2 separate regions of the Homo sapiens genome follow, and region 1 is reported to be linked to region 2. Evidence: microRNA targets listed by miRTarBase, many of them from high-throughput screens and not tested one by one. Region 2 holds a microRNA gene; the other region holds the end of a gene's coding sequence.
The links. The annotated mature microRNA hsa-miR-223-5p reads CGUGUAUUUGACAAGCUGAGUU and lies in region 2 at 5,314-5,335, opposite strand. An mRNA with a match to its seed (bases 2 to 7 or 8) in the 3' UTR can be bound and repressed. Matches are read on the target gene's strand: a 7mer-m8 pairs with bases 2 to 8, a 7mer-A1 pairs with bases 2 to 7 and ends in A, and an 8mer does both.

Region 1: the mRNA of PARD6G is a reported target of hsa-miR-223-5p. Seed matches in the 3' UTR shown: 7mer-m8 at 9,096-9,102.

What each region holds. Positions count from the first base shown.
Region 1 is chr18:80,149,892-80,165,169 of GRCh38, forward strand. It overlaps PARD6G (par-6 family cell polarity regulator gamma), which reads right to left. Exons shown (of 3, transcript NM_032510.4): 3 at 7,341-10,715. The coding sequence ends at 9,880. The region is part of intron 1 of PARD6G-AS1 (PARD6G antisense RNA 1); the gene reads left to right. Among named protein-coding and RNA genes, the nearest start is that of PARD6G-AS1, 9.6 kb to the left of the region's middle. RefSeq lists a silencer at 9,859-9,928.
Region 2 is chrX:66,008,686-66,024,229 of GRCh38, reverse strand. MIR223 (microRNA 223) reads right to left here and starts at 5,360; the gene lies at 5,251-5,360. It overlaps VSIG4 (V-set and immunoglobulin domain containing 4), which reads left to right. Exons shown (of 8, transcript NM_007268.3): 7 at 1,368-1,389; 8 at 1,730-2,492. The coding sequence ends at 1,967. It overlaps MIR223HG (MIR223 host gene), which reads right to left and starts at 8,769. Exons shown (of 3, transcript NR_170299.1): 1 at 8,679-8,769; 2 at 7,041-7,165; 3 at 3,804-5,406. RefSeq lists an enhancer at 10,911-10,980.

The DNA of each region.
Region 1 (15,278 bases), not on the chromosome of region 2:
AAAAAGTGGGTCATCTGATTGGTTGTTGATCACTGCAACAGCAAAGTTCTAGGCAATTAATGTTTTTGTTACTTTTGAAACATAAGGGCAAGGAATTAACAAAAAGTGTGTGGGACAGGGACAACTCCTCCCCTCTGGCCTCATAACAATGTTCTTGAAGTTTGCTTTTTCTTCTCTACCACTTGCATTTGCTAAGCAGAAAGTGTTGGGGTGTGTACTCCACAGGAGTGGTTCACTGAGGTGATGCTGCCCTGCACCAGCACCCTGAGGTGAGGAGACTGCTTTGGGGCAGGCAAGGGGCCAGGAGAGAGCAAACAAGTATTATTTTTCCTGTGTGTAGACTCATATTTAATAATTGTTGAAGAAAAAAGCCTTAACACCACATGTAGCAAGTTTTAATAGAGTTTTCTGATTACCTTGGTCCCATGGCTGACCAGTGACCGCCATTATGCCTGCAGAGATGGGATGGTGAGCCATCATTTCTCCTTCCTCTTTCCTGAAACTAGTTCTGATACCATCAGTGGCTTAGTCTCTATATGTCCATCAGATCCTGCCCAATGCTGGGGACAAAACATGAATGAAATGGAGTTACCCCTCAAAGAGCTCCCAGCTCTAAAGCCATGATCCTGTGCTCCATCAATACACAGGAGCAAGGGGGAAGGCAGATGTTCCAGGAGGAGCAGAGAAGGCTTCACAGAGGGAGGCAGCACAGCCGACCTCAAGTGTGAAGGGAAGCTGCAGGGGAAGTGCAGAGCAGTCCCTTTCAGGCCAAGCAACAGCACAAAATACCTTTGAGACATAGACATATGAGAGGCACAGCTCATTTGAGGAGCATTGAAGAGTTTAGGGGCACAGAATTAGACTTCAGGGTTAAGTTCAGGACCTGGGATCAGAGTCTGGTAAGTTTAAAGGTTCTTGAAATAATTCTAGTAAATAAATAAATGTGGTAAGACAGTGCAGCAGTACAGGTGCAGAAGCTTCAGAAGCCGTCCTTTCTCCTCTCCTCATCCTCTTCCTTCCCTCTCAGCCCTAAACTGAGGCAGAGCGAAGAGGGCTCCAACTGGCAGAGGAAGAACTGGTGGGGCTTGGAGTTGGCTGTGGAGCCAAGCAGGGTGGTGAGGAAGGGTCCCCTGGGGAAGGTGAGAATGGCCCCTGTCAGTGTGAGTGGGGCTGGGAGGCTGAGAGGTAGCTGTGAAGGGGCATCGGGCCTGGAGATGGGGGAGGGCACCTGTGTGGGGAAGAGGGTGGTGGTGGTGACGGGAGGTTGGTGGTTACATTCAGGGGACTGATCAGCACATGAGTATATTAAGGATAATGGGAGCAGGTTTCTTACAAACAAGGAAAGGAAGAATCAATAGAGATGTAAATGCGTGTGTGCACATGTATGTTTGTATGTGAGAGAGAGAGAAAGATCATCTCCAAGACCACCCTCAGGTTTAGTGAGTTTCAGAAAGAACTCACAGGCCTCAGAAGTCATTCTGCTCATGGCTACAGTCTTCCTAAGGGGACACTGTAAGGGGAAAAGGCACAAGGCAAAGGCTGCAGGAAGCCTGTGTGAGTTGTGAGCACCCTCTCCTAGGGCAGTCAGGAGGGATGTTCCTGACTCCTCCAGCAGTGAGCTGTGATGATGTGTGAGGTGCTGTCCACCAGGATGCTTGCCTGAGCCTGACTCCTGCGTGTGGTTTGGGGGATTGGTCCCATAGGCACACAGGAGGCTACAGAACCCCGGAAGAAAATCGGGGGTTCGTTGTAAGTCACATCATTTGTACGAATTGTCCAGAAATTGTCTGGACAAAAGGGTGCAGGTGATGCATGTTTCTAAGTGTGCAAAACACTCATGCTACAGTGTCCAACTTTTTTGGCTTCTCTGGGCCACAGTGGAAGAAGAATTGTCTTGGGCCACACATAAAATACACTAACACTAATAATAGCTGATGAGCTAAAAAAAAAAAAAAAAAAAAGTCCATGCATAATTTTCATGATAACCTTATTAAAAAGTGGGCAAAGGACATGAATAGACATTTTTCCAAAGAAGACATACATATGGCCAACAGGTATATGTGAAAATGCTCAACATCACTAATCATCAGAGAAATGCAAATTAAACCACAAGATATCTCATCCTACCCTAGTTAGAATGGCTGTTATTTAAAAAGTCCCAAAACAGATGTCGGCAAGGATGCAGAGAAAAGGGAACTCTTATACACTGTGGGAATGTAAATTAGTACAACCTGTATGGAAAACTGTGGAGATTTCTCAAAGAACTAAAAATAGAACTACCATTTGATCAGCAATCTTCCTACTGTGTATCTACCTAAAGGAAAAGAAATCAATATATCAAAAAGATACATGCACTCTTATGTTTATCGCAGTACTATTCACAATAGCAATGATAGAGAAATTAGCCTGAGTGTCCATCAGGGGATGACTGGATAAAGAAAATGTGGGATAAATATATACACAGTGGAATACTATCCAGTCCTAAGAAAGAATAAAAATGTCTTTAGTGACAACATGCATAGATTGGAGGTCGGTATCTTAAACAGGTCAGATCCCAAAAGACAAAGATCATGTGTTCTCACTCATGAGTGGTAGCTAAAAAATGTGTGCACATGGATGTAGAGAGTGGAATGACAGACATTGGAGACTTGGAAGGGTGAGAGGGTAGGAGGTGGGTGGGTGATGAGAACTTAAGGAGTACAATGTATATTATTTGGGTGATGATACCCTAAAAGCCCTCACTTGACCAGCACACGTTGTGTGCATATATCCAATTATGCACGGACCTTTTTTTTTTTTTTTTTTTTAAGATCATCAGCTATCGTTAGTGTATGCATGCTGAATAGGGTATCCAAAACTAGTACCCCACGGATTTATACAAATAAAAAAATGGTTACTAGTAAGGATGACTGTAAGATTTCTGCTTAGATTACTATTGTAGTAGCATTCACCTAAGACATTCTTTGTCCAAAATACTTTCAAATACAAAAATCATGATTCCAAGAAAGTGAAGAAACAGGATGCTCAGAGAAAGGATTGCCCGTTTCTCACTGATTGTCTTTCTATGGGTCAGTGGTGCTGAGCAGGGAATATTCCCTTCCATATTTTCAACAGTAACTTGAGTGACCCTTTACATATAAGCAGACTTTTAATTCCAAATTTTTGTTTGTTTTTTTGAGACGGAGTGTCGCTCTGTTGCCCAGGCTGGAGTGCAGTGGTGCGATCTCAGCTCACTGCAAGCTCCACCTCCCAGGTTCATGCCATTCTCCTGCCTCAGCCTCCCGAGTAGCTGGGACTACAGGCGCACACCACCATGCCCAGCTAATTTTTTTTGTATTTTTAGTAGAGACGGGGTTTCACTGTGTTAGCCAGGATGGTCTCCATCTCCAGACCTTGTGATCCGCCCGCCTCGGCCTCCCAAAGTGCTGGGATTACAGGCATGTGCCACCACGCCCGGCTAGTTTTGTATTTTTAGTAGAGACGGGGTTTCTCCATGTTGGTCAGGCTGGTCTCGAACTCTCAACCTCAGGTGATCCAGCTGCCTCAGCCTCCCAAAGTGCTGGGATTACAGGCATAAGCCACTGCGCCTGGCCTAATTCCAATGTTTGACCGAGGAATGAAGTCACTTACACTGGATGGCAGAGTCTGCCTATTGCTGGCTAGAATAGACAGTGAAGATGCATTCCCGAATAAACCAAAGGTGGTAGATGGTGTCTTTCCTTAGCCAGACTGTGTGGATAAACATTGCATTTTTATTTATTTATTTTTTTGAGACAGGGTCTCACTCTGTCACCCAGGCTGGAGTGCAGTGGTGCAGTCATAACTCACTGCAGCCTTGACCTCCTAGGATCAAGCGATCTTCCCACCTCAGCCACCTGAGTAGCTGGGACTACTTTTTTTATTTTAGGCAAAGAGAATGTACTTGGCTAATTATAAAAACATTTTTTTGTAGAGACAAGATCTGTGTTGCCCAGGCTGGTCTTGAACCCCTGAGCTCAAGAGATCCACCTTGGCCTCCCAAAGTGATAAGATTACAGGCATGAACCACTGCACCCAGCCTGCATTTCTACAAACTGATAGATGGGGTGAGAAAAACAGTTAAGCCAGAACATACAGGTGCAAATTATGGCTCTGAAAAGTATTTGTGTGATATTAGAAATATTAGTGTGCCTTCATTTTCTCATCTGAAAAGTAATGGTAAATGGTAAAAATTTACAATATCCTCCTTCTGGCTCTGTTTTTCTTGTCATTTATTGATAAATGAATTATGTGTTATCTTTTGTTTGTTGCCTGTTTCTGAAGCATAAACTCCAAGGAAACATTGGTTTACTCATCCACACTAAGTAGGATCGTTAGTAATCGTTAGTAACTGAACATCAGAGAGAATATGACAGCCTCTGAATAAAGAGCTTATGCTGGCATGGGAAACAAATGCAAAACCGTCGTGGCAAGCAGAGGGCATGAAGTCGGGGTTTCAGTGTTTCGCCTGTTGCCTGTTACCACCCATTACACAGAAGTAGATTTGGGACTCAGGTACTCTTATTAGTTGGTGTGGTGCCCTCTGTGGCCTGGTTCTGGATCTGCAGCCCAGTTACTGAAAGTAGATTTGGGGCTCAGATCCTGTCATCCATGTATGTGGTGCCTTCTGCGGTCTGGTTCTGTGCAGTTCTCTTTTTATGACTGGTAATCTCTGTGGCCCAGTTCTGTGGAGGTGGTTTTCCATCTCTGATTCTCTCATCAGTGTGTGCTGGTCTTTGGAGTCTAATTAATTCGAAGTTGATTTTGGATATTATCCTCATTCGTGTGTGGTGCTCCCTGTGGTCTGGCTTTGTGGAAGTCAATTTTGGATTCTGATCCTGTCATACATCTGGCATTCTGCAGTCCCATCACATGGCACTGTGCCCTTCTTATGCTGCAGTCTTATTATGAGAAAGGAGGTTCCATACTCTGATCCTCTCATCTATACGTTTAGGTCTCTGCAGTCTGGCCTCAGATGGGTTTCATATAGGGTGTGTAATTTGGCTCTGAAGTGGTAAGACAGACTTTTCTGTCATCACGGCCATGTTGCTTAATAGCTCACCTGACAGTCTACTGGAAGTACAATTCTTGTAAAAGAGCTCTTGCCTGGCACTTTGTCTTGAGAGCAAGGGGACTCAAGTCAAGAAATAATGTGTTTATCTTCAAAGCTCCCTGGGAAAGCAAATTTGGAAAATGGCACTCATTTTCTGGGTTGCAAGATCAATGATGAATCATGTTTGCTTTTTATTACTGTTATAGAGTTATGTCTCTCCTTGGGAACATGGCTCAGTATTGAAAACATTCTCAATACCCTCAAGTTGTTTTTTTTTTCCCCATGAGGATAAAGGAGAATAAAACACAAGATAAATGAGGAAAGGTAAGAGGGAAAAAAGAATTTGTATATTGATTTGGAGTGTCTTCAGGAATAAATAGGAGATGTTCAAAGCATAAAGGAGAACGTTAAGAAGACTAGGTGTATAGATGTGGCGCCAGAATGGTGGTGGTGGGAGATAATTCAAAAAATAGTATTTGTGCACTTAGGAAATACTTTTGCAGGTTACCTGATGTGAAATTACAATATTGATACCAGCACATAACATCCTAGAGGGAAATCCTATGTGCTTGTTGGATAGGGTCTCGGTCATCAAGTCCAAGTTTATAGGCAAGTCCTATAAGCTTGGGGGATTAGCCAATGGTTCTCAAATGTGATTCCTGCACCAGCAGCATCAGCATCTACTGGGAACTTGTTAGAAATGAAAATTCTCAAACTCCACCCAAGTTCCTTAAATCAGAGCCTCTGGGGTAATCCAGGCACTCTTTTATTTGTTTTGTTTTTTTGAGATGGAGTTTGCTCTGCTGCCCAGGCTGGAGTGCAGTGGTGTGATCTTGGCTAACTGCAACTTCAGCCTCCCGGGTTCAAGCGATTCACCTGCCCCAGCCTCCAGAGTAGCTGGGATTACAGGTGCACGCCACCATGCCCAGCTATTTTTTTGTATTTTTAGTAGAGCTGGCGTTTCGCCATCTTGGCCAGGCTGGTCTCGAACTCCTGACTTCAGGCAATCTGCCCGCCTTGGCCTCCCAAAGTGCTGGGAATACAGGTATGCACCACTGTGCCTGACCAGCAGGTGCTCTTTAAACAAGCTGTTCGAGGGGACGAGGGTTCACCCTCCGGTTTGTTTGAAACAGGAGGTCCTTGAGCTCACGCTGAGCAGCTTACCTTTCCAGAAATGGGCAAGCTGGAAATCAGCTAAGTAGGTTCATACTTTCAGTAGGAATGGTACACATTAAGTATCTTAGTGCATTTGGGAACTGGCCATTAGTGCAGCCTTACACCATTTTAATAAACTATTCAGACCGTGTGAGTTTTAGTGCTGCCATAAAAAACTTCATACTAGTGCCAACTTTTAAAATGCAAGGATCAAAAGTTGACCCTACCACACTTAGTTCATACTTGCATCCTTTAAAAACATTCCACAGAGGTGCAGGTAACTTACATGTCCTTCTGTTGGAAAATTTAGATTTTCGCTAATATAGATTTCACAACAATCATGGCATTTTTTAGATACTTTTGCACCTTGCCACAAAACTCTCACTCGCTGTGATCATTTTATGTGAAACCATAAAATATTAAATACCCTCACCAAATTGTGAATAAATTTGCCATATGATGTGGACTATCAGGTCAGGGAAACCCAAGCCTGAGGCCACACCCGGCTGGCAGCCAGGGGCACATGTGGCCTCTGCTTACACTTAAGCCTCGTATCTCATCCTGCTGAAAGCGGACATTAGTTTTGGAGAGTGTACCCAGTGTTGGCACTTGACTCCTGCCTCATCAGACTGTGGGGGTCAACTGTCCAGCTGCCGACAGTCCAGAGTTGCTGTGGGGACTCAGCAGGTGGCGAGTACTTGTGAAGCTCCTAGTAGGGTACCTGTGCTGCTTCCAGGATGCTGGTGCTCAATGTGATCACATCTGTAATTTGCTGAGTAACTGAATTTGTAATTGTAATTTGACTCTTGATGGCTGCCAGAACGACAGTGTTAATGAAAACCGTGCCAACCAGGGCACATTTAGGAAGGACTGTGTGCTGTATAAATATTCAGAAAAGCTTTTTCAAAAAGACTTCGAGAGAGGGTTCTGGACTGTCATCTGTCTATCTGATGAGCTTGGGCCCATTTTCTCATCTGCGTCCCTCAGAGAGTATGTGCGGATTCCGTGAAAGATGGTACATGATAAGCACTTGATAAATCTGTCATTCTCTTTGAGGGATTACTTTATCTCTGGTATTCTCTTCCACTTAGAACACAGGTGAAATATTCATGCATTTTGTTTACTCAAAAGTCAAAAAAGTTTTTATTCTCTGATATATAAAACCAAGAAAACTTTAATACATAATATGCATAGTTTTGTTTTTTTAAAAGGAGAAAGTGGCAGAAGTACAGACCTGTGTAGAAAAATACACCCAAGCAGCTGTTCTAAGCAGTAATTCCTAAAATTATGAATAGCACACAAATCTCAGTGAAAGCCTCATTTCTTAAAAAAAAACTCACATTTGCTTAACAACTTAAAATGTGATAAGAAATATAACCTTCCTTCTTGATAGCCGACCCAGTTATATAACAGACATTCAAGAATCAGCAATAACTTAGTAAAAGAACATTTCCTTTGTGAGGGTAACATTATTAGTTTTAGTTCCACAAAAACTGCTTCTGACTGCTGGGGCACTGAACGACATGCCCTTCATCAGAGAGCAAGTCCGGGGGGTGCGGATCCTCACCGGAGAGGTCATGGGGAAGCATCTTTGGTCTTCTCTTGCTTAGGAACAAAGGGCCAGCAATCCATTGCATACAAATAACATCAAACACAGGTGCAGGAATTCACAACTCCTCAGCAAAAGCTATTTCTTAAAAATAGAACTTGCTTTTCACTTAATATTCAGAAAAAATGAAAATGCTGAGATGCAGTTTTCCCTCTTAGCAGTTCCATGTTCACGAAGTCAGGACAGTTCTGCCACTGACCAGCAGGTGGTGCTGGACCACAAGGAGAAGCAGCGGGAGGTACGCAGCTCCGACAACCTAGAAAAATATTTCTTTACCTGTATCTGTATGAAAGATTTGGTCAGAGTTCTCAAAGTATAAATGTAACATTTTATTCAAGCAAAACACATTATATAAAATTTAATTGTATCAAATAGGAATTTTTAAAATTACTAAATATATAAACGTTGCTGGAAGATCAACATAAAGTGAGGATGAATTTAGTATTTGTTAAAAATCACTAAGTTCCACGTGACTTCTTATAGTTAAAAGTGAGAACTGCCAGTGACCATTCTAGAAATGAAAATTAGCATGTATTGTGACTTACTAAAAGAAACGTCTGTTTCAGAAAACAAAGATGAGAACTCACGTGCAAATGACTGCATTCTCAAAGACATTGCTGGACATGTGCGATGCTTATCCTTCATTTCTGCTGAAAACATTTCCGAAATCGCCCTCAGAGTCAGTCAACCCACAGGAAAAGGGTCATCTTAGAGGCAATAGAGGCTTACATCCCAAATGGGACTGCTGAGCCCAGTCCAGCAGAGCTGCTGCTTCCTACCCTGGATTTCCCCTTGAGGCTGAATGGGCCACCTATGTGGGTCACAAAAATAGCCCCTGGTCTGGTGCTGTGGCTCACGTCTATAATCCTAGCATTTTTGGAGGCTGAGGGGGGACCGTATCACCTGAGGTCAGGAGTTCAAGACCAGCCTGACCAACGTGGTGAAATCCCATCTCTACTAAAAATACAAAAATTAGCTGGGTATGGTGGCATGTGCCTGTCCCAGCTCCTTGGGAGGCTGAGGCAGGAGAATTGCTTGAACCCAGGAGGCGGAGGTTGCAGTGAGCTGAGATCCCTCCAGCTTGGATGACAGAACAAGACACTATGTCTCAAAACAAACAAAAAAAAGCCCCGGAACAATTCCACAGCTGCGGGTGCCATAAGTGTGCTGGTGGGAGCTCTCCTGTCCCAACCGAATTATGACTATGAACAGTGTGAAAATCTGGAATTCATCTCCATGGTTGTACATGGACAGGTTTGGGTGTATTTTTTTTTTTTCCCGAGACAGAGTCTTGCTCTGTCACCCAGGCTGGAGTGCAGTGGTGCGATCTCAGCTCACTGCAACCTCTGCCTCCCGGGTTCAAGCGATTCTCCTGCCTCAGCCTCCCAAGGTAGCTGGGATTACAGGCGCCTGCCACCACACCTGGCTAATTTTTATATTTTTAGTAGAGACAGGGTTTCACCATGTTGGCCATGCTGGTCTCGACCTCCTGACCTCGTGATCAGCCCACGTAGGCCTCCCAAAGTGCTGGGATTACAGACGTGAGCCACTGCACCTGGCTGCATTCGTTATTAAAAACCAGCCTCTTGTCACGTACATCAGCACAGTCGGCCTCGCCTGCAAGTCAGCAGAGAGCACAGCAAGAATGCTGAGATATGTTGCATGGGCCAACTTACTTAAAAACATGAATTTGACTATTTTAAAAAAGTAATTTTAAAGCTTCACTTTAAAAACAAAGTATTTGTAAAAATTTTAAAAAGCATTTTTTTGCACTTGGTCAGATCTTTTCTATCACTTTGCAAAGGCGCCAAGACCTGCACTCAGGCCTGGTATAGAGTGTCTCTACAGGCGTTCATTTTAAGTTCTGTGGCGAAATTCTATAAAAATAGGCAATACTTGTGTTTTTATATCCGGAAGTTGAAACAAAGAGCAGCGTTGTTTTTGTGGTCACAAAAACAACAAAAAATGAGCGGATGCAGTCTGCAGGTCCTGTCCCTGTCCTTACCGGGGAACTGGAGCTAGGATTTGGGGGCCTCTCGGGAGTCTAGAGCGTGACCGCGGGCCCGTGCTCCTCCACGCCGCCTGGCGGCAGCGCCAGGCTGTGACGGGGGTCGGCCCGCAGGGAGCTGAGCAGCCGCTGGAGGCCGCCGTCCAGGGCCAGGTCCCGCTGCAGCCGCTGCGCCAGGCCCGCGCCATTGACCCGGGAGAGGCTGCCTGCGGGCGCGCCCGGGGTCTGGGGGGGACGTGCAGGCTCCAGTGTGCCCTCGATGACGACGTCGTTGTCCTCATCGCTCTCCGCCTCGTCGGGGTGGAAGTTCTGCAGGACGCGCGGGGCGGGGGGACCCACGAAGCCCGCGGTGCCGTCCGAGGGCGGTCCCGAGCTGCCCAACGCGCGGCCGCCGCGCACCACGTTGTTGCGCTGGTTGGCGGGCTTGACGGTGACGATGAGGTTGTGGCTGTTGGCGATCATCATGTCCGTGACCTGGTCCAGCGTCTTCCCGGCCACCTCAATGCCGTTCACCTCCAGGACCTCGTCATTCACAGCCAGCAGCCCGGTGCTCTCCGCCAGGCCCCCGGGTACCATGCGCGAGATGAAGATGCCGGGCACCTTCTCCAGCCCGTGCGGGGTCACGCGCACGCTGGCGCCATCGCGGATGTAGAAGCCCAGCGGCTTCTCGCAGCCGTGCCGGTGCAGCCGCACTCGCCGGTGCGTCTCGGGGACCAGGTCCACATCGATGATGGATGATACGGGGCGGAAGTCGCGCGGGAGGCCGATGTCCAGGTGTGCACGCCGCCGGGGTCCTTCATCACGCAGCGCGCCCAGCGCCCGCCTCCGCCTGCACAGCGAGCCCGCGCCGAGGCTGCCACGCTCGGCCTCCTCTGCGGGAGAGGGGACAGTTAGAGGGGACACACAACCGAGCCCCGCCTGAGCCCTCGGCCGTCATACACCTGGCACTGCTGTTCCATCTGCGTGACGCCGAAGCACCCAGGGTGCACAGGAGCATTCCAGACCTGCAGGCTGAGCTGAAATCAGGCAAGCTCAAGTGCAGCCCCTAAAATTAACTCTCTAGCACTCTCCTTACAGCTCCACAGGCACCAAACCAAAGAACTCAGAGATTAAAAGGTGCTAGCAGGCAGCTGCAGCAGAGAGAATCAATGGCAGTGGAGGGTTTAGGGCTTGGAGGGCTGGCGAGTGCCTCAGCCTTCTGGGAGGCAGCAGGCTGGACTGGGGACTTCTTAAGCTTTGCCCATTCTCCCATATTTCCTTCTCTCAACTGTAAGACGGAGGCTCGTTTTTTTCTAAGGTTAATTACAACTAAGAGAGACCTTTCCTGCTTTCTTCTTTTCTATGCGCAAGCCCCACCACAGTGTCTTCTAGCCAGCATTCAAGGCCCCTGAATGTGTCACTCAGTCGGGCGTGTGAGCATTTCCCTGCGTTTTTGGTTAGCAGCTGATGAGGGGAGATGAGTAGAGGAAGGAGTGGGATCAGAGGATGGCTGCTTCCCTTCTGTGAGGTCCCGCACAGTCAGTGCTATTTGTAGGCACATGGAGCCTCAAGGCTCACCAATATGCCCAGCCTCCCATGGGGGCTGTGCAGCTCTCTTCCTCAGGTCTCCCAGGGACCCTGTGGGATCCGCCTGCCCACACCTGCCAGCCTGTGGCATGACACATTTGTGGCAGTGTGTAAACTTTACCCTAAAGTTGGGCTACTGCAAAATAAAATGAAAGTCCACTGAATTAATCAAGCAGAAACGTAAGGAGCTTAGTCTAAAGTAAAAATTTTAAGTGAAGAGACTGGTGGCATTTGGAAACTCTGAATAATGCATTTTCCTCATGTCAGAAAAAAAATCTTGTTTCATTAATTTTTATATGAAACCTCTTGTTCTTGACACACACGACTCTGTAAGACAGGCGTCTCGGGGAGCAGAGGGAAGGGCTTGCTCTGTGAGGCTTGGTCCTGTGGAGTTGGTGGCATCCACAGCAGCCTGCTCTTTGGGCTGGGGAGGCTCACATCTTTGCTTTGCCAGTGAAAGCCAGTAGGACCGGGAGCCCAGGCAGAAGCAATGCCATAAACAGGCGCTCCTCAGAGCAGAGACCTCCAGGCTCCAGGGGTCAGTCTGGCTTCTGCATTTCAGTGAGCAGGCAGGGCCCATTATGACTTGCTTTGGAGATGGGGAATGCTGGTTGACAGTTCTGGAAAGGACTCGAAGACAAATTACTTCCACCATGGAGGCAACATTCAGGCAGCTTGGAGAGGAGGCCAATGCTCAGGCATCACATCTCTCAACCCAGCAGAGCCCATGGCTGCCTAGACAACGAGAAGGCCCTAGCACAGGCTCTGGCACATGCTCCAGGCAGCAGGGTTAATGCACCCTGGAGCCGGGATGCCCCAGCATGAGGACTGTCTTCCTGGGAGCTGGCATCCTGGCCAGCACTCAACACATGCTGCTCAGTGACGGAACCCATCCGTCATCAGTTATCAGCATAATTTATTACCCACTGACACAGTAAGGTCTGGAAGGACTTTTGAAATAAGATGACTTTTAAAAACTATACCTGTAAACCCTGTTTACCCTGACGTGATTATTATGCATTGTATGCCTGTATCAAAATCTCATGTAACCCATAAATATATATACCTAATATGTACCCACAAAAATAAAAAAATAAAATGACACTTGTAATACTTCTTCCCAGCTGTGACCACCGGGGCTGGGTGTGCATGTCTGTCAAGTCCTTTCTTGCACACTCACACGTACATGTGGCTATGGTTGTGCTTGTTTTATAGAAATGGGATCTTGGTTCCTGGCCAGCACCCGGCCTCTCTGCACCTCATAGACACTGCAAATCCTTACTCAGTGACTTCAGGGATACAGGTGAGTGGATAAAGTCCCTGCCCTGAAGTAGCCATGAAGCGAGTGGGAGAGATACAGACTGAATTTTACATACAGCTACATGGAGAACACCGTGAGACTGGATGTGCACAGGATATGATAGGAACAGTGCGGGGGCATCTGGGGAGGTGGCAGTTATGCTGCCCGGGGTGTGGGGATCAACAACACAAAGTTCAAGAGAAGACGCCGGAGGGTGAGTGGCACAGAGCTCCTCTTCCCGTGATGAGGAGAGACTACCTGTAGAGTCCATCTGGTCTGGCTGCTGCCGCAGGTTTGGACTAACCAAGGGCCTGGGACAGAGTGGGCTCTCCCTGGACTAAAAGCTAAACCTCACTGAAGGCATCTGCCTCATGATTGCTCATTCTAAGTGGGAGGGACTGTGGATCCATGGGGCCGCAGATGGAAGTGTGGCAGTGTCCGAGGCACAGTGCTCTGCCTGCTTTCCATGATACGGGCTCTTCCCAAGGGGTCTCCTTGGATGACAAATCTATGCACTTTCAAGAAGGCAACCCCTCTGGCAAACTCATGCCTGCAAGAACATTGTGGTGCAGGTGGCCATCCACATGCTCCTCCTTGAGGACAGGCCCTATGCTCAGGCCCTGTGCTCAGAGCCACGAGCAGCAGGGCCCAGGAGAAGAGACTAAGGTTTTATGCAGGGCAGGTGAGGCCTGAGATGCTGAGGGTAGGGGAGTAAGAAATGGTGTGTGTCCATGTGTGAAACAGCCTGGCCGCCTGTCCCACACACGGGCAGAGTACAGTGAGGCTTGGCCCGGGAGAGGTGACACCTACTGTTCCAAGCATCCTCTTTCTCTCTACCACTGACTCACAGAGTTTGAGGTTCAATTTCACCTCCCTCTGAGAGCCGCTTGTCTTCAAGTCCCAGTTCACAGCCACCCATCCCGGGAGCCCCACCCCTGTTCCGCATGGTGCATTCCCTTCCACCAAAACCACAAACCTGTCTGCGTCACAAGGGCCAGGTGGAAGCATCTCGGCCATCCCCACAGGGCAGCAAGTGCTCTGGCCGTGGTGCACGGTGGACTGGATTGAGGCTCAAGCCCAGAACTGTAGGATACAGAGAAGGGCACAGCGGGCCGGGCCCCTCCTCGTAAGGGGCTTATAAATCACTTAGGTAGACCAGGGTTCCCTGCACCAATAAAAGCAAGTGTGTGGACCTCTGCTTCCCAGAAGTCATGTAGTTCTTCCCATCCCTCCTAAGTTCAACAAAAACCCTGGATGTTACATACAAAACAACAAATATAAGATGACGCAGGAGAGAAGTCGCACTAGCTGGGGCCTCAGGACCGGAGAAGCAACATGGCAGCAGCTCCTTGGGTTTTCTTTTAGCCTTGTCATCCCAGACTTGGAGCTGAAGGCACCAGCAACCTGGATGCACCAACAGGCATAGACCAAAAAGCCCCATCAAAAGTCTGCTCTGTCTGTACAAAGATCAGAAAGAGGCAGCCTAAAAGGACGGAACACGTGTGGACAATAACTACCCCACCTGCTGCACCCCACACACAGAGCCTGGACCCTCACCTCCTCAAGGCTAGAATGGGTGCCCAACAGCCCCTGGCTCTGGTGCCAGAGAGACTAAGCAGGGAGTGAGGACCTGGCCTTTGTATTTTGTCCATGGGCCCCACAGTCTTGAGTGGGCCTCTCCTCCCTCAAAACACTTAGGGGCCATCCTAACAGCCCCTCCTCCTGGCCAAGTCCCAACTACTGCAAATCCCTCCCCTGCACTCCAAACCCTCCAACCTGTGAGGGGCGTTGCCTCTGTGATGTGCTCTCCATGTGTCTAAAAGGCTCCAGCTTTTAACTTTCATGGTTGGGTGTTTCCACCGGGTCCACACTGCTCTTCACGTCACAACTGAATGTCATGCCCATAGTAAGAGGATGAAACTGGGGGGTCCTGGGCCTTCAAGGACTTGAGCAGAGGGGAGCCTTGTTTACCCACCTAACAATAATGTAAAATATAATCCTAGCCAACCTCAAATTAAACCTTTTGAAGATATGTAATGGGGGAACCTGCCCCCAATATTTCAACGTAGGTTCTATTTTCCATAAATGTCAGCCAGCTGAGCAAGAGAAAGAGTACAAAGAGAGGAATTTTACAGCTGGGCCACCAGGGATGACATCACCTATCGGTAGGTCCGTGATGCCCACCTGAGCCTCAAACCAGCAGGTTTTTTATTAAGGGTGTCAAAACGGGAGGGGGTGTAAAACAGGGAGTGGGTACAAAGATCACATGCTTCAAAAGGCAAAAAGCAGACGTACTAATAACGGTCTAACAAAGATCACATGCTTCTGAGGGAACAGGACAAAAGGAAAAAGCGGAACCACTGATAAGCATCCAACAAACACAAGGCAAAGGGCAAAAGCAGAACCACTGATAAGGGTCTATGTTCAGCAGTGCACATATTGTCTTGATAAACATCTTCAACAACAGAAAACAGGGTTCGAGAGCAGAGAACCGGTCTGACCACAAATTTACCAGGGCAGAGTTTCTCCCCACCCTAGTAAGCCTGAAGGTTCTGCAGGAGACCAGGGC
Region 2 (15,544 bases):
CCGAGGAGGAAAAAAATTGGGATGCTTGTTTCTAAAAGAAAAAAATACTAGCTGTCTCTCAATGCCCAGTGCACTAGTCATGTTGCCTAGCATCAATTTGTCTTATTCTCTGTAGTATCTCTTACTCCCAAATAGCCTGGTTACTACCATGGATCTGATGGATTTCCATCACCAGAAGGGAGCCTTGAGTATCTCCTTCTCCCAGGTTTCAATTATAAGCTCTGGCTTTTGCCAGTTAGCATGTTTATCACCATGAGGCTGAACTTGATAGCACATGACTACAAACCCCAGGGGCACTAAAATGAAAGCATTTGCATATAGCCTTGATGAGGCTGGGCATAAGCGGTAACCACATTAAATTGTTTCTCTCTCAAAAACCTTCCATGGCTTCTTATGGCCCAGGGGATAAAGGTCAAAATGTAGCATTCTATTCAAGGCTCTCTGTGATGTGGGTCTAGCCAATTTTCTCAACCCACCACTTCCTTATACCTAGTCTCATTTCCAAAAATTCCTCTTTCCTATCTCTGTATAAGGGAGACAGCCTCAGAGCATCAATTTAATTTAACATAATTACTGAGCACCTATTGTGTGACAGGTGCTGAGCATATTAAGATGAAAAAGACACGACCCTTGCGGTACAGGTGCTCATAGGCCAATGGGCGAGTAAGACACAGAAATGCAGGGCTCTACCATAAGGCAGAAGTCCTGTGGCTTCCCTTGTTTACTTTGTTGTCATTTAATGCTTGCATTTCCAGTTGCATCCCTGAAAAATTATAAGCACCTAGAGGGCAGTACAAAGAAATATCTGTCTTTGCACCAACCTAAGCCTTTGAGCCTGTACGGAATATAGGACACTCCTCCTCCACAGACACTAGGGGGCAATGGTAACCAATACCATGGTTTTTCCTGGGTATATAGTGGGGGTGAGTGCATTTGGGAATGTCTTGGGTCACGGCCATCAGCATCAGGCTAATCCAGTCCCTTCTTCCTGGTATGTGGCCTGACAGTCAAGTTTCCCACAAGGACTCTCTGGGGATCCTTGGGGGAGATTCCTGGGTAAAGAGCAAGTCCAGTTCTAGTGCCCTCCCCCAACCCATACCGAGAAACTGCTCCAGCCCAATATCCTGAGTCCAAGATGACAAAAAGGATAGTGACCAAATGTGCTTCCCCTTCTTTTACCTGATAAATTTGCATCTCTGTGTTTCAATTCACCTCCCCAATACCTCCCAGTTGTTGGAAAGCTAAGACATATTAAAATCCCCTCCTCTGTACCCTTCCCTCATCTTTTGACTGGTACCCAGGATCCATGATTGACCTTTGTCCACTTGCCATGAAAACTTCTGACATGATTCCTCCTTTTTTTCTAGAGCATGTCTACGAAGCAGCCAGGTAAGAAAGTCTCTCCTCTTCCATTTTTGACCCCGTCCCTGCCCTCAATTTTGATTACTGGCAGGAAATGTGGAGGAAGGGGGGTGTGGCACAGACCCAATCCTAAGGCCGGAGGCCTTCAGGGTCAGGACATAGCTGCCTTCCCTCTCTCAGGCACCTTCTGAGGTTGTTTTGGCCCTCTGAACACAAAGGATAATTTAGATCCATCTGCCTTCTGCTTCCAGAATCCCTGGGTGGTAGGATCCTGATAATTAATTGGCAAGAATTGAGGCAGAAGGGTGGGAAACCAGGACCACAGCCCCAAGTCCCTTCTTATGGGTGGTGGGCTCTTGGGCCATAGGGCACATGCCAGAGAGGCCAACGACTCTGGAGAAACCATGAGGGTGGCCATCTTCGCAAGTGGCTGCTCCAGTGATGAGCCAACTTCCCAGAATCTGGGCAACAACTACTCTGATGAGCCCTGCATAGGACAGGAGTACCAGATCATCGCCCAGATCAATGGCAACTACGCCCGCCTGCTGGACACAGTTCCTCTGGATTATGAGTTTCTGGCCACTGAGGGCAAAAGTGTCTGTTAAAAATGCCCCATTAGGCCAGGATCTGCTGACATAATTGCCTAGTCAGTCCTTGCCTTCTGCATGGCCTTCTTCCCTGCTACCTCTCTTCCTGGATAGCCCAAAGTGTCCGCCTACCAACACTGGAGCCGCTGGGAGTCACTGGCTTTGCCCTGGAATTTGCCAGATGCATCTCAAGTAAGCCAGCTGCTGGATTTGGCTCTGGGCCCTTCTAGTATCTCTGCCGGGGGCTTCTGGTACTCCTCTCTAAATACCAGAGGGAAGATGCCCATAGCACTAGGACTTGGTCATCATGCCTACAGACACTATTCAACTTTGGCATCTTGCCACCAGAAGACCCGAGGGAGGCTCAGCTCTGCCAGCTCAGAGGACCAGCTATATCCAGGATCATTTCTCTTTCTTCAGGGCCAGACAGCTTTTAATTGAAATTGTTATTTCACAGGCCAGGGTTCAGTTCTGCTCCTCCACTATAAGTCTAATGTTCTGACTCTCTCCTGGTGCTCAATAAATATCTAATCATAACAGCAACTTCAGTTGTGTTGGTCTTCTCTCACAGTATGGTAGGACCTACTAAAAGTAATTAAAGTGAGACTAGTTAAGATGGCTGGGGCCCGAGAATATGGATGTCACTTTTGCTTTTTTGGTCTTTCCCCTTCCCACACATGCCACTCCTACTTCACTCCACTGGTAAGCCCAGCTGGAGAACAGTGAATACTTGATTAAACAGTACTCCCCTGGCTTCCATTACCCAACCTGTCATCCTGCCAGGTCCACCTGGATGATTCTTCCCACATCAACTGGAAGCCTAAGAAAGAAAAAGTCTTTCTGTCTCAGGGGACTATGAATGCAGAGATGAAGGGATTTCCTTCTTTCCCAAGTATGGATGCACCACTCCCAAGGATTTCCACTTCTTTGAATCTTAAAATCCTGGGGGTAGTTGCATTTTTCATATGTTATCTTCTTTAGCTCCTGGCCCCTTCTTACAATGTGAGGTGGGGATAAGAGCAAGAAAGCCTTTCTCTTCAAGGAGGAATAGGGCTAGGAGTGTGTGTGTGTGTGTGTGTGTGTGTGTGCGCACGACAGAGAGAGAGAGAGAGAGTTTGTATGTGTACATAAGTTCCTACACCTTTAAATCAGGCTCCGCTGTGAGGACCTGTTCTGACCCAGGTTGACACAGTTTTATTTTCTCGATGTAATTAATGTCAAATCAACTTCTGCACTCTTCAAGGAAGCTGCCATGTTGCTATTTCTGGTTCCCATGCAGCCCCTAGGTCAGCTCATGTTTCACAAGGAGCTGCTCCCCTTTTGCAATGATTACAGAAGTCAAAATAGTACACGAAAGTAACAAAAAGGAGTCCTCCACTTCACCGCCACCCAACATGCCAAATCCAGGGTAAAAACCTCAACATTTTCCTCATTCCAGACGCTAGCTTCTCCTAGTTGGCGAAAGGAACAACTCTTTCTTCCCCATCGTGCTTACAAGCCTCTGAAATAGGGCCTCCACCCAGTGGAAACCCCAACTTCCTTCATGAAACAACTCTGCGTCCAGACCCTACAGCCTTTGAAAATACCCATTATCTTTCCCTACTACCCATAGAAAAAGTGAGTTTTAGGTGTTGGGAAGAGAATCCTGGTTGCATTTTCACTGGTAAAAGGAGCCACACATCCAGGGACGCTGCTCCATAAGAGCTAAGGACTCCCAGGGATATCTCAAAGTCATTAATCTTAAAGAGCCTAGAGATCACTGATTCTAATACTTCCGTATTGGAGATGAGAAAATGAAGCTCAGAGAGGAACAAAAACACAGTTAGTGGTAGAAAGGAGACCAAAAGTCAGGCCTGTGAACTCCTCAGTGCATATATTTATTGCAGCATCTGGATCTTCTTTGCCTCAAAACTTAGAATATTTTTAAATACAGGACAAGCTAGTAAAGAATTCCTATGTAATAAAGATAGTCCACAGCTGCAGAGGCTAAACAAAAATGAGATGATAACATGTGACCTTTCTTAGGCAGATGGCTGGTTGGGGAAAGTAGATGAATGAAAAGAGGAAAAGATCTCCAGAAGAGCGGGAAGGTATAAAGTTTCTCTAGGACAGTTTCCCAAATCGTGCTTCATTGGACATTGACACAGGAGAAGGCTGTGGGGGAAAAGAAAATTCATGATCAGATAGGTATGGCAAATGCCTCATTCTATGGTTTCCTCTTTGAGATTCTCAATGCAACATTAGACTATTAAAGGCTCTGAAAAATCCTACAAGAAAACACCTGTATAACCTTGTGTGACCAAGTAATACCAAAATTTATTTGCCCTCTGAGTCTGCTATTTTGCCCTCTTCCTCCAGCCCTTGACACTGTTTCTCAGGAAGAAAACATCCTTCATGCTGGCTACTACCTCATATGCTCTATAACATTGTGGTGTTCACAGTTTGAATTTTTCAAAATCCAGGGTAGAATTTGGCCCCCAAACCTAAAGCTAGTGGACAAGAGGAAAGTCAATCAATCAGTAAATATTTATTATTTTCTGTAACTAAAGTACTGGGCTGTGGTAGGGGAGACAACAATCAAAGACATAGCCTTGTCTTCCAGAAGCTCACAATCTAGTTGGGAATTCAAGAATACCCCTTAGAAAAGTTCATTGACAATTTACGAGGTGCTATTAGACAGTAGGAGAGAAAGGCATACATACCAGGGCCCAGGGAAGAAGAGCTTTGTGAATGAAGAAGGAAAAAGTGTAAGTTGACTTTCAAAAGTCTCTGGAAACACTGGACTTTAGCTGGTCCAGGAAATATAGGGAAGAATTGGATAGGCAGGAATAAATGGAGAAAGTGTTCCTACAGGAAAAGACATGTGGAAAAGGGGAGAGGTAGGCAAGATCAAGGAGTGTTTAGAAGGCAAGACTGAGTATCAAGAAAGTGAATTTCTAAGCCCTGCTTACTCAGATAAGCCATTAGGCTTGTGTGAGAATGCTGATGTCCTAGATAGGAGACTCTGGGAGGGGAATATGAAGGAAGAAAATAATAATGAATCAAAGAGCACTTCCATTCCTGGACACTTTATACATTTTCAAGACTATTGCGCCCCCATCAGCACTCTCATGGTGTGTGTAGACACAGCCCAGGGCTGTATTTCCCTGAGATGCCACACTTTTCCCCTGGTGTCCTCAGATATAATGCCTCAGTTCCTGCAAAGTCACATAAAATAACTTGTGAGAACTTGGTGCTTGGTGAGCATCCTTGTATCCAGCTGGCAGTCCATTCGTCATATCCCATCTGCCCTGGCCTAGAGCTGGTAAGCATGTGCCGCACTTGGGGTATTTGACAAACTGACACTCTACCACATGGAGTGTCCAACTCAGCTTGTCAAATACACGGAGCGTGGCACTGCAGGAGGCCAGGCCAAGAGCTTCTGTGGGGAAGTGAGATCTTCCTGGGAGATGTGACCCTAGAGGGAAAGAGAGAGAAAGGAATGATGAAGTCACACCCTTAGCCCCGGGGATCTTGCTCAAAGGACCAACCAAAGCACCAGAATAGGGAAGTGAGCAAAATAGGCATAGGGTTCCTAACCAGAAGAGAGATCCTGAAGATAAGCAGGTAAAGCCCGAGTGACACCCAGTGCTCAGCTGGAAGCTCATCAGGCCTGAGTCCTGTAGCTATGGCATTTCTAGGGGTCCCAAGCTTCAGTGGGTTCCTCTATGCAGCAGAGAGGGGAAAATTTGGTCATCATCCTGCCTCCCTGACTTGAGGAAAGTACCAGACCCTAGAGTCAGCATCCTTGCTCCCTCTTCTCAATTCTCCCAAGCTGTGTTTTCAGTGTTGTGGTTATGCACATAGGCTTTGAGGTTAAACATGAGCTTAAATCCTAGTTCTTCCATTAGCTAGTTAGGCAACCTTGGATACATCATTTCACCTCTCTGAGCTCAAGTTTTCTACACCCACAAAATGTATGTAAGTATAATACCTACCTCATAAGGTTATTGTGAGAATGACAGGAGATAATGCATGTAAAGCCTTTGGTTCAGTATTCAATACATAACAAATGCTCAAAAAGTAGTGGTTGTGTGACCAAAATGAAAGAAAGAGCTATTGGCAATTGATTTAGCAGGATCTGGACAGGTGTGACATTGATTTCTTGTGGTCTCAGCCTTGCCTAACATGATCCTCTTGTCCCATAGGGACTCAAGAATGGCAGCTATTAAAGTGCCCTTAAAGATCATCTAGTCTCACTCACTTAGGTTATAAATGAGATAACAAAGGCTCCTGTTGGGGAGGAGACTTGTAAAGTTTATACAATAAATTTTTTACAGTTCAGCAGTATGCCTTATACAGCTTTCCTCATTGGTTATTTTGCCTCCCTTCTCTGTATATCCCTCTGGGAAAGGGAAGACACATCAACAAAGAGGGCAAAAACAGGCAATAGCTTTGTAATGCAACATTTGGGATCACTGAACCCACAAGCCACCAGGGCAATAAGGAAGCTGCCAGGAGCAGGGTCAGGTCTGAAACTTCTGGGAGAATTCCCTTGGCAACAATCAGATCCTGTTGCTAAAAATCCCAGGTTGCTGGTGTCAAATTACTGCCCTTACCAGCTGTGGCAGTTGATCTGTGAGCAGGTAGCTGGTCTACATTAAATATTGTCATGAAAAGTGGCAAACATCACAAGGTTACCAGAAATGGTAAACTGCCCCCATGAGGCCGGAAAGCCCTGTCCCAGCCCAGGTAAGACAGAGGGATTCAGCCTTGTCTTTCAGCAAGAAAACAATCAGTGTCTTTTCTTGCTCTATTCTTTTAATTGAATGTTAAGAAGGTAACATACTCCTTCAATTTAAGTTCTGGCAGTCATCTCAAAACTAAAGCTCTTTCACTCCCTCACTTCCTTTTCTACCTACCCAATTCAGCCTAATCCACCCAGCAGCAAAAGCAGCAGTCATGGTCACCAAATATGGCATGACAGAATCGACAAACTTGTGTTCTAATGCTGTCTTGGCCATCAACTAGCCAATCATGGCTTGGGCAAGTCTTTCTTTGGGTTTCAGTTGTCTTCTCTGGAAATGAGAACAAGGAGACTTACCTACTTACCTGGCAAAGTTGTTGGAAAGTGTTGCTAAGCTTTCCAGAGCCTCCCACATAGGAGCTCAAAAGGACCTTGTCTCAGCCCCTGGACCTATGGTTGGAGGCCAGCCAAGCAAGCTGATTAACAGAGTCTGAGTTGGGGATGGCAGGAGAAAAAGAAATGGATTGTTACCTTTTTTGTATCATTACACTCATTGGCTGTCAGCTCCAGTAAGAAGACCTAGATAAGCTGGAGGTGTTCACAGCCTTTTGAATGCACTTTCTGACTTTATTCACCTCCAGAAAGGCTGGAAAGGAGGCATGAAAGGGGCTAAAAATTATTAGTACTTTGAAATTTGTGGAGCCTTATAGACAACATTGCTTCAGTATTAATGGAAGGAGTTAGTGGTTGAGCTGAAACTAGACTGGTATGCCTCTCCAATGGAGTGTATGTAAGAAAATCACATTCAGTTGAGAAATGTTCACCAGACCCATAGAAAGAAGACATAAATATCTATATGGGATGATATTAAGGGAATTTGAAAGCTCTTCTCTTGGTCTGTTATATTACTTAGAATAACATCATTTTTCCCCATATGAAATGCAAAATCCTCTACTGAAGAGCGTCATCAAGCCACTATTGTTGATGCAAAGGATGGGTCAGTTTTTATGGAGGGAATTGGAGGGAATAGACCAGAAGAATTAGGGGTAAGTAGGTGTCTAGGAATCTCTGAACACTCAGAGTGAGCCAAGTACCTGAAAGAAAAATAGAAGAAAAGAAGAAGTCCTCAGGACCATGCCTAAAAATCCCAGACTGCCTCTAGTATGAGCAGGACCTGTCCTGGGTCAGTTACAGGACAGGTCCTGCTGCTTGATGTCTCAGTCCTCCTAGGATAGAGCAAAAAGAGGACTGACCTGGGAGCCCAGACCCAGCTGTGCTACAGATTCTCTGTATGACTTTGGGCAAGTCCCTTTCTTCCTCTTTCTGGACCTCAGTTTCTTCCATATGTACCTAGTCTCTAAGAGTCTTTCAATTTTGAATCTCTAGGAGTCAAAGATTGGACTAGAAAAGAGGCTTTCATCTTTGAGTCATGCCTCTCAGAGAGTGCTATATGGATTACCACCAGCACTCTCCTCTTGAATGTGTTCAGCCCCACCCACAGTTACATATGCAAAGATTACTCTCATCTTCTTTCTTGACAGAGGGCTGACAATCATGAAAATTAGGAATCTAATAACCATGGGTCTCTAGACAGCATCTATCTAATCATTCTTTTCCTCTTTTTACTTTTTTATTTTGCAAAAGGGGTGAAAAAACTGTGTCCTAGATTGGAGAAAGGACTTACCCAAAGATACACATTGGGTAAATGGTAAAACCAGGACTGCTACTCAGGTTTCCTGACTCCTGGGTCCAAAGGCCATTCCACTTCCATGTGACTATCTCCTAAACATCCTGATTGGATAGAAAATATCCTATCCCCTTTTCCCCTCCATTAGAACCTCTAGGATAAAAGGCCAATGGAAGCCTTCTTCCTCCCACCTTTGACCTTAATCCCTGAGGAGGGTCTGAAGAGAATGGGATGGGCAGATCCAAGCCACCCTTGGCTGCCATGGACTCTGCCCCAGCTTGAGAATCCAAGAAGAGAGGGCAAATGGATACCATACCTGTCAGTGGAGTGGTGCCTTGGTCATGGAGGGGACTCTGATTCCCCAGTGCTGAGCCAACCTGCAGGGGCCAGATGGAATTGGGCTTTCTGCCGTGAGCAAGAAGCTTCTGTGTTTTGAAGGGCCCTTGGTGTCTTCAACAGGAAACAGAAATGAGGAAGATAAGACTGAGGTTAGCCAACGGAAATCTGGATGCAAAATGACAAAACAATGCTGTTGTGAAAGGGTCTGCTACTGCAGCAATAGTAGCAGGCCACTGCCCTGCCTCCACCAACTCCCAGCTGACCTTCAACAGACACTAACTTTCCAAGCTGCAGAGAGAGAGAGAGTAGAAAGCACCTGGCTGCCCTAGGCTCTGCCTGTGGGTCAAGGAGGTTTTCCCAGAATAATTGAGGGAAACCTGGAATACCAGAACTGAGACATTATCTAATGAAAAAACCCGTAGTCAAAATTGAGAAACAGAGCCTCTGAGGGATAAAAGGAAATACTCAGTATCACAAAGCAAATTAGTGGAAAGCTGAAATTTAAACCCATCCCCATGGACTCCAAATCACATGTTCTTTCACTCTGCCAGAATGCCTCCTGGTCCTGGAATACCATTTTACTTCCAACTTCTCTCCTGGCATACAGAACCAGCTACATAATTTGCAAGGCCCAGTAAAAAATGAAAACGATAGGCCCTTTATTTAAAAATTAAGAATATCAAGATGATGACAGCAGAACATTAAACTAAGTGTGGGGTCCTTCTAAGCATGGAGCCCTGTGAAGCTGTACAAGTCATATGCCTATGAAGCTGGCTCTGGGGCACAGTTATGACCACAAGCCACATTCTGTCATCTTGGGGCTTGCTGAAGGAAATAAATAAGGAAATTCACATTTATTGGAGTACTTATGATATTCTTTCATGTGTATTATCTAATTTATTCAACAACTCTCTGGTATGGTATTATTATTCTTATTTATAGGTGAGGAAACTGAGGCACACAGAAATAAAGTGACCTGTCTAAGGAAACAAAACTAGAAAATAATAGAGAAGGCAGATTTTTCACTCAGGTCTAACTCCAAATGTTGAGGTTTTCGTCTACTTTCCCACATTGGCTACAAGGAAGGGAGAAGAAAGTAGTTGACTTTGAGAAAGAAAAATTAGTGCCAGACCCCTAAGTTCAACTGTGACCTTCAGGCTAATGAGGGACATGAAAGGTGTGAAAAGAAGGTGGATGGTTTCTTAATGCCTCATGTTTGCAGTCTCCTGGAAGTCCCCACTAACAGCCAGGAAGATGATGAATTCCCATCATGCAGTGCCCTCCACCATGAATTCTGATGGCATGAAGGATGGGAGGGGCAATGCTTTCAGGTTATACTTTGATAGCTTTCAATGACTGCAGTGCCCAAGTCACAGTCCTCTGTCTACACTAGTGGAAGTATGGCCCTGAGTGATAGTCAAGCCGTGGTAAATAATCTTTTCAAGCTATGTACATTCTTATATACTCAGGCTCAAAAGAAAGACCACATTCTGCGAGCCAAGAGCCCTGGGCCCTAGTCCCCACTCTACTACCTCCCTGGGCATTAGTTTCTCCTTTAATCAACAGAGGTTGGACTAAATGGTCTTGGAGACCACTCCAACTCAAACATTCCCTGGTTCCTTTGTGGCTCTTCGTTACTCACTGTGGGCTTCCCCATGGTTGCAGGACCTGAGGCTCTGTGAAAGCCTGAAATAGGGATTCACTTGCACTAACATCACTCTGTAGAAAACTTCCTTCTACCAGAATAATTTATTGGCTCAGGCCTCAAGACCCCAGATCTAGCTTCTAGAAAGATTCAGTTCTTGTTTCTTTTGGTTTCTGACTAAAGCTTGGAGCGGAAGTAGGGTAGTCCTGCGGGCACTTTGCTAAAATGGGACCCCCTTCTTCCTACGCATACCATAGAGATTAAGTTTAGCTACACACGTTTTTTTCTTCCCTATCAATTAGGGTACTCTACTGGCCTTTTAACAGGGGTTTCTGGAGACAATGTGTTTACCTAAAGTAGTAATTAATGGTATCTATTTTGAGTCCAAAGACAGGGCAATAAAAGAGAGCATTAGGAAACAGAAGGCTCTGAAAATCATACTACCTATGCATATGGCCTGAATGCGAGAAAAGGGAACTGTGCTCAGAGTTCCTCTTTAGCCCACAAACACAAAGTATGCTGGGAAGGGCCAAGTTTCCAATAACAGCACAAAGGGGCTTCTTCTTTTTGATCTGTTGTCCAGGCTTCTGCAGAGAGCAACCAAAAGTCACAAAGTTTTCCCATTTTGTATGATTTCTGCCTTGCCTGTGCTTGTGAAGGGAGATGAGAAAGAAGGGAAAATAGTTGACAAGCGGAGCAAGCAGGCAGTGCTGGGGTCCCACACTGCAGACACACTCATTTGTTTCCGCAGTACTGGAATGGAAAGAACACTGAATCAGAGTCCCTGCATCTTAGACCCTGGGTTATAGACCAAGCTCTGTAACTTATTGATTATGTGACCTTGAACAATCACACACAGCCTGTCTGAGCCTTAGTCCTCACATCAGATTGAAGGATTCTCAGGCTAAAGGGAAATGGAAGACAGGTGTGCACCCCAAGAGCTATGTCACCCTACAGAATATGATAAGTAATTTGACAAAGTCATGAAGTGCCGTCAGATACGTATATAAGATTCTCCCAGGGCAGAAGATGAGAAGGTGATGGTAACTGGAAAGGTTCTCAGAAGAATAAGATTTTGGCTACATCTTAAGGGATAGAGAGGAAAAAAATGATGCTCACTGTCTCTGGAAAGCCTTCTCTGACAACCACCTGCAAAATTAGTTGCTTCCCACCTTGCCCTCCTCTACTCTTGAAAAACATCCACACAGCACTTAGGTGTCAGTCTCTCCCAGAAGACCAAGCACTGCCCAAAGTAGGAACTATGTTTGATCTTTACTGTCTTCTTAGGCCTAGGAATAAACTAGTTATCCCAGAACTGTGAGGTGAATAAGTGAATGAGTCAATGCATAAGCAAAAGAAAGAGACCTCATAGCCCAATGTCCCCACATTGCTTAGCTTACCCAACCTCCATGAAGGAGCTGAGAAGCCCCCACCCTTCACTTTGAGTTTATCTTCCTGTTCACTCACCCCCACCTCCTTTCAGAAGACTTTCAAGAAGAGGCCCCAGGGAAAATTGCAAAGCTAAGGCCACTTCCTGTGCAAGTGGCTTGTGTCCACACACTCTACCTCAACCCTAGTGATTGCTATGCATAGGATTGCATTGGGGTTTCCTCTGAAAGGAAATACAAAGGCTGATGCAATGTGTAGGGCACCCGCAGGCCAGGACTAAAGAACTTTTTGTACACCTGGGCCTAGGGACAGAGGTTTCACTGTGAGGCTGCCACAAAACAGTGACACTGACAAGATAAATGGCAGCAATTAACCCAATAACTACAGCTTAAGTATATTCAGCAAGGGTGTGTTGAGCACCTACTGGCTACAAAGCTCTATGCTTGGCAAAAGGGGAAAAAATAAACATACAACAGAACAGAAATATACAACAATCTAATACAAATGTAATGCGAGCCACAATTATTATAATAACCACATGAAAAATTTTTAAGTGAAACTAATTTTAATAATATATTTTGTTTAGCTCAATACATCCACAATGTTATTTCAACCTGTAAACAATGTAAGTATTTGTTAATAAGATATTTTACATTATTCAAAATGTAGTATGTATTTTATGCAAACAGTACATCTCAATTTGAACTTGCCATATTTCTAGTGTTAAATTGCCATCTGTGGCTAGTGGCTACTGTATTGACCAGAACAGGTATAAGACATGGTCCCTACCCTCTAGGAATTCACAATCTAGTCCAGAAAACAGAGTGCTACATAAGCATGTTCAAAAAATGAGTACAATAGTGGAGGTGCATGTATGGAAAAGAGAACTGTACTGAGGGTCAGGAGATCTGGGCTACAGTCTTTTCTCTGCCACTAATTCTCTGTGTGACCTTGAGCAAATCCCTCTCCCTTTCTGGGCCTCCAAATTTCCATCTCTACAATAAGTCTGATTAAATTTATTCACAAAACAAATACAAGTTGAATGTGTTCTAAGTGTCAGGCATGGTGCAAGGTACTCAAGATGCAGAAGTGAAAAAGACATATAAAACGCTTGCCTTCTTGACATATACCGTGTGGTGGAAAATAGCCATTAAACAAATTTTTTAAATATGTCAAGAAAGGGGGAAGATCAGAGAGCAGGGAGAACACGTAACAGGATAACATAATCCACCAGACTTGGATAGGTCAAGAAAACTTCTCTAAGGAAGTAACTTTTAAAGTGAGACGGAAAAATGAAAAGTAGTGAGCCAAGTGGATAATGGGTGCAAGGCAATTCCAAGCAGAAGAAGCAACATGTATAAAGGTTCTGAGATGGAGAATAATGTGGCATATTCCAAGAAGATAAAAGGCTGGTATGGCTTGAAAAAGAGTGAGCAAAGGAAAAAATAGCACAAAGCAAATAGAAGAGTTAAGCCGGGGGCCAAACTAAGAAAGGACTTGTATGCTATGTTGGGCGTTTGAGACATGAGAAGCCAGAAAGTGTATATATGTGATGCAGTGCCCTTCTATATTCAAGCCTAGGATTTTAGGGGTCCAGACTATGGCAACAAACAGGAAAAAAAAGTTAATTTCAACTGGTTGGATTAGAGACTTCACAGAAGAGGCCGAATTTTAAAAGAGCCTTGAAGGATAACAGGATCAATAATCAGAGAAAGGCATTTCAGGCAGAGGAAAGAACCCAAGTAAAGGTGCAGAGATAGGAAAGAATATGGTGAGCTTGTGTGAATAGGGAGACTACCGATACAAAATGGCAAATATAAGCCTGAGAGCATTTTTAAGTATCTATAGATATCGTAGAATAATAGTAGCCCAAAGGCCTATCCAACACACCAAATGTGCTCTGGAGGAAACCTGGCAAAGAGGTTCGACCTATCAGGAGATCCATTTTGTACTGGAATAACAATAATTAACAAGTATTGTGAGCTTACTAAGTGCCAGGCACTGTTTGAAGCCCTTTACATATGTTAGTTTATGTAATCCTAACAACAACCTTATGAGGGAGATACTATAATTACCTATTAAATGGCAGATGTAGGATATAAATATCATGCAACAATTTATGAAAGGTAGAAATTTTGGAGCAATCTACAAAAAAATATACAATATGTCTCTGGCTGGAAAATGTCAAATTCAAGTCAGTTATCATCTCAGTCTTTAAGGGCAGTTTTTTCCAAGAAAACCTCATTAATTTCCAATTTATGATTGTTAGATAAGTCTGAGCTGAAGCTTTTGTTTAGCTTCTTAGAAAGACAAAATAAATGAAGTAAATAAAATAGGAGTTCCAGGGAGTTGTTTAAAGACAGAAAACCAAACTGGTTCTACTTACTACCCATACCTCACTCCCACTTAGAGTCCTTCAGAACCTTCCATCTATGGCAGAAATAACTGAAGTGACCCTAATCAACCATTTTAATCTATTTCCTATAATGGCCCACCTAAAGGTTTTTACTAAGCAGTAGCTGTTTTTGTTTTGTTTGTTTGTTTTTTTCTTAAAATGAGTAAAGAGTTTATCTGGGCCAAGCTTGAGAGCTGCAACTCAGGAGCATAGATTCGAGTTGCCCTAAATATACACTCCCTTGGGAAAAATTTTAAATGGACAATGAAGAAATGAATGAGGAATCAACTTTCAATAGCCTATTGTAAATAGTATATTTGGAAGGAACAAACATGTATTTATTTAAAATATATATTCTCACTCTAGTCTGTCTCTCACTCCCACTATTCACATCACACCTGTAGTCCCAGCTACTGGGGAGGCTGAAGCAGGAGGATCACTTGAGCCCAGGAGTTCAAGGCTGTAGTGCACTATGGTCACCTGTGAATAGCCACTGCACTCCAGCCTAGGCAACAGAGGAAAACCTTGTCTCAAAAAATAAATAAATAAGAGGAAATTCTGTCATTTTCAACAACATAAATGGAATTGGAGATTACGTGAAGTGAAATAAGCCAGGCACAGGAAGACAAATGCCACATAATCTCACTTACAGGTGGATTCTAAGATAATGAAAGTTATAGAAGCGGAGAGTAGAATGACGGTTACAGAGGCTTGGGGGTGGGTGGAATGGGGAGATAATTTTCAAAGGGTACAAAGTTTCAGACAGAAGGAATAGGGTTTTTTTGAGATCTATTGCACAGCATGGTGAATACAGTTAATAATAGTATATTGCATGTTTCAGAATTGCTAAGAGAGTACATTTCAAATTATTCAACAAATTATAAGTATTTGAGACAATGGATATATTAAATTTAATTACTCCACATTGTATTCATAAATCATAACATCACTTTGTATCCCACAAATACAATTATAAATTTACAATAAAAAATTAAATGAATATATCTATATATCTGTATGTATCTATATATCAGTATAGAGATATTTCCTAATTCAGACTGGGGTAGTTGCCCGTGATATCATTGACTTGGCACACACAGACTATTTTCATCTTCTTAGTTTGTCTTCTGAGTAAAGGAAGGGCAAGAATTGTGCCTTTTGGGAAACAAAAAGAAAATTTAGAACAGACCCTTGAGCTTTCACCACAGCTAAACATTTGCTAGAACTAGATTTGGCACTGATTCAGGAATCAGTCAATCCCTAAAAAATTGATACCTCATGGGGTTACAAAGTGGAATCCTGAGAGCTCCTGTAAAGGCCAGATAATGCAAGGTAAGAAGCAGAAAAGCTTCATATTGGCATCAGAAGGGACACTGCCTTCTATTATCGGTTCTAGGCAGAATAGGAAGTGGGA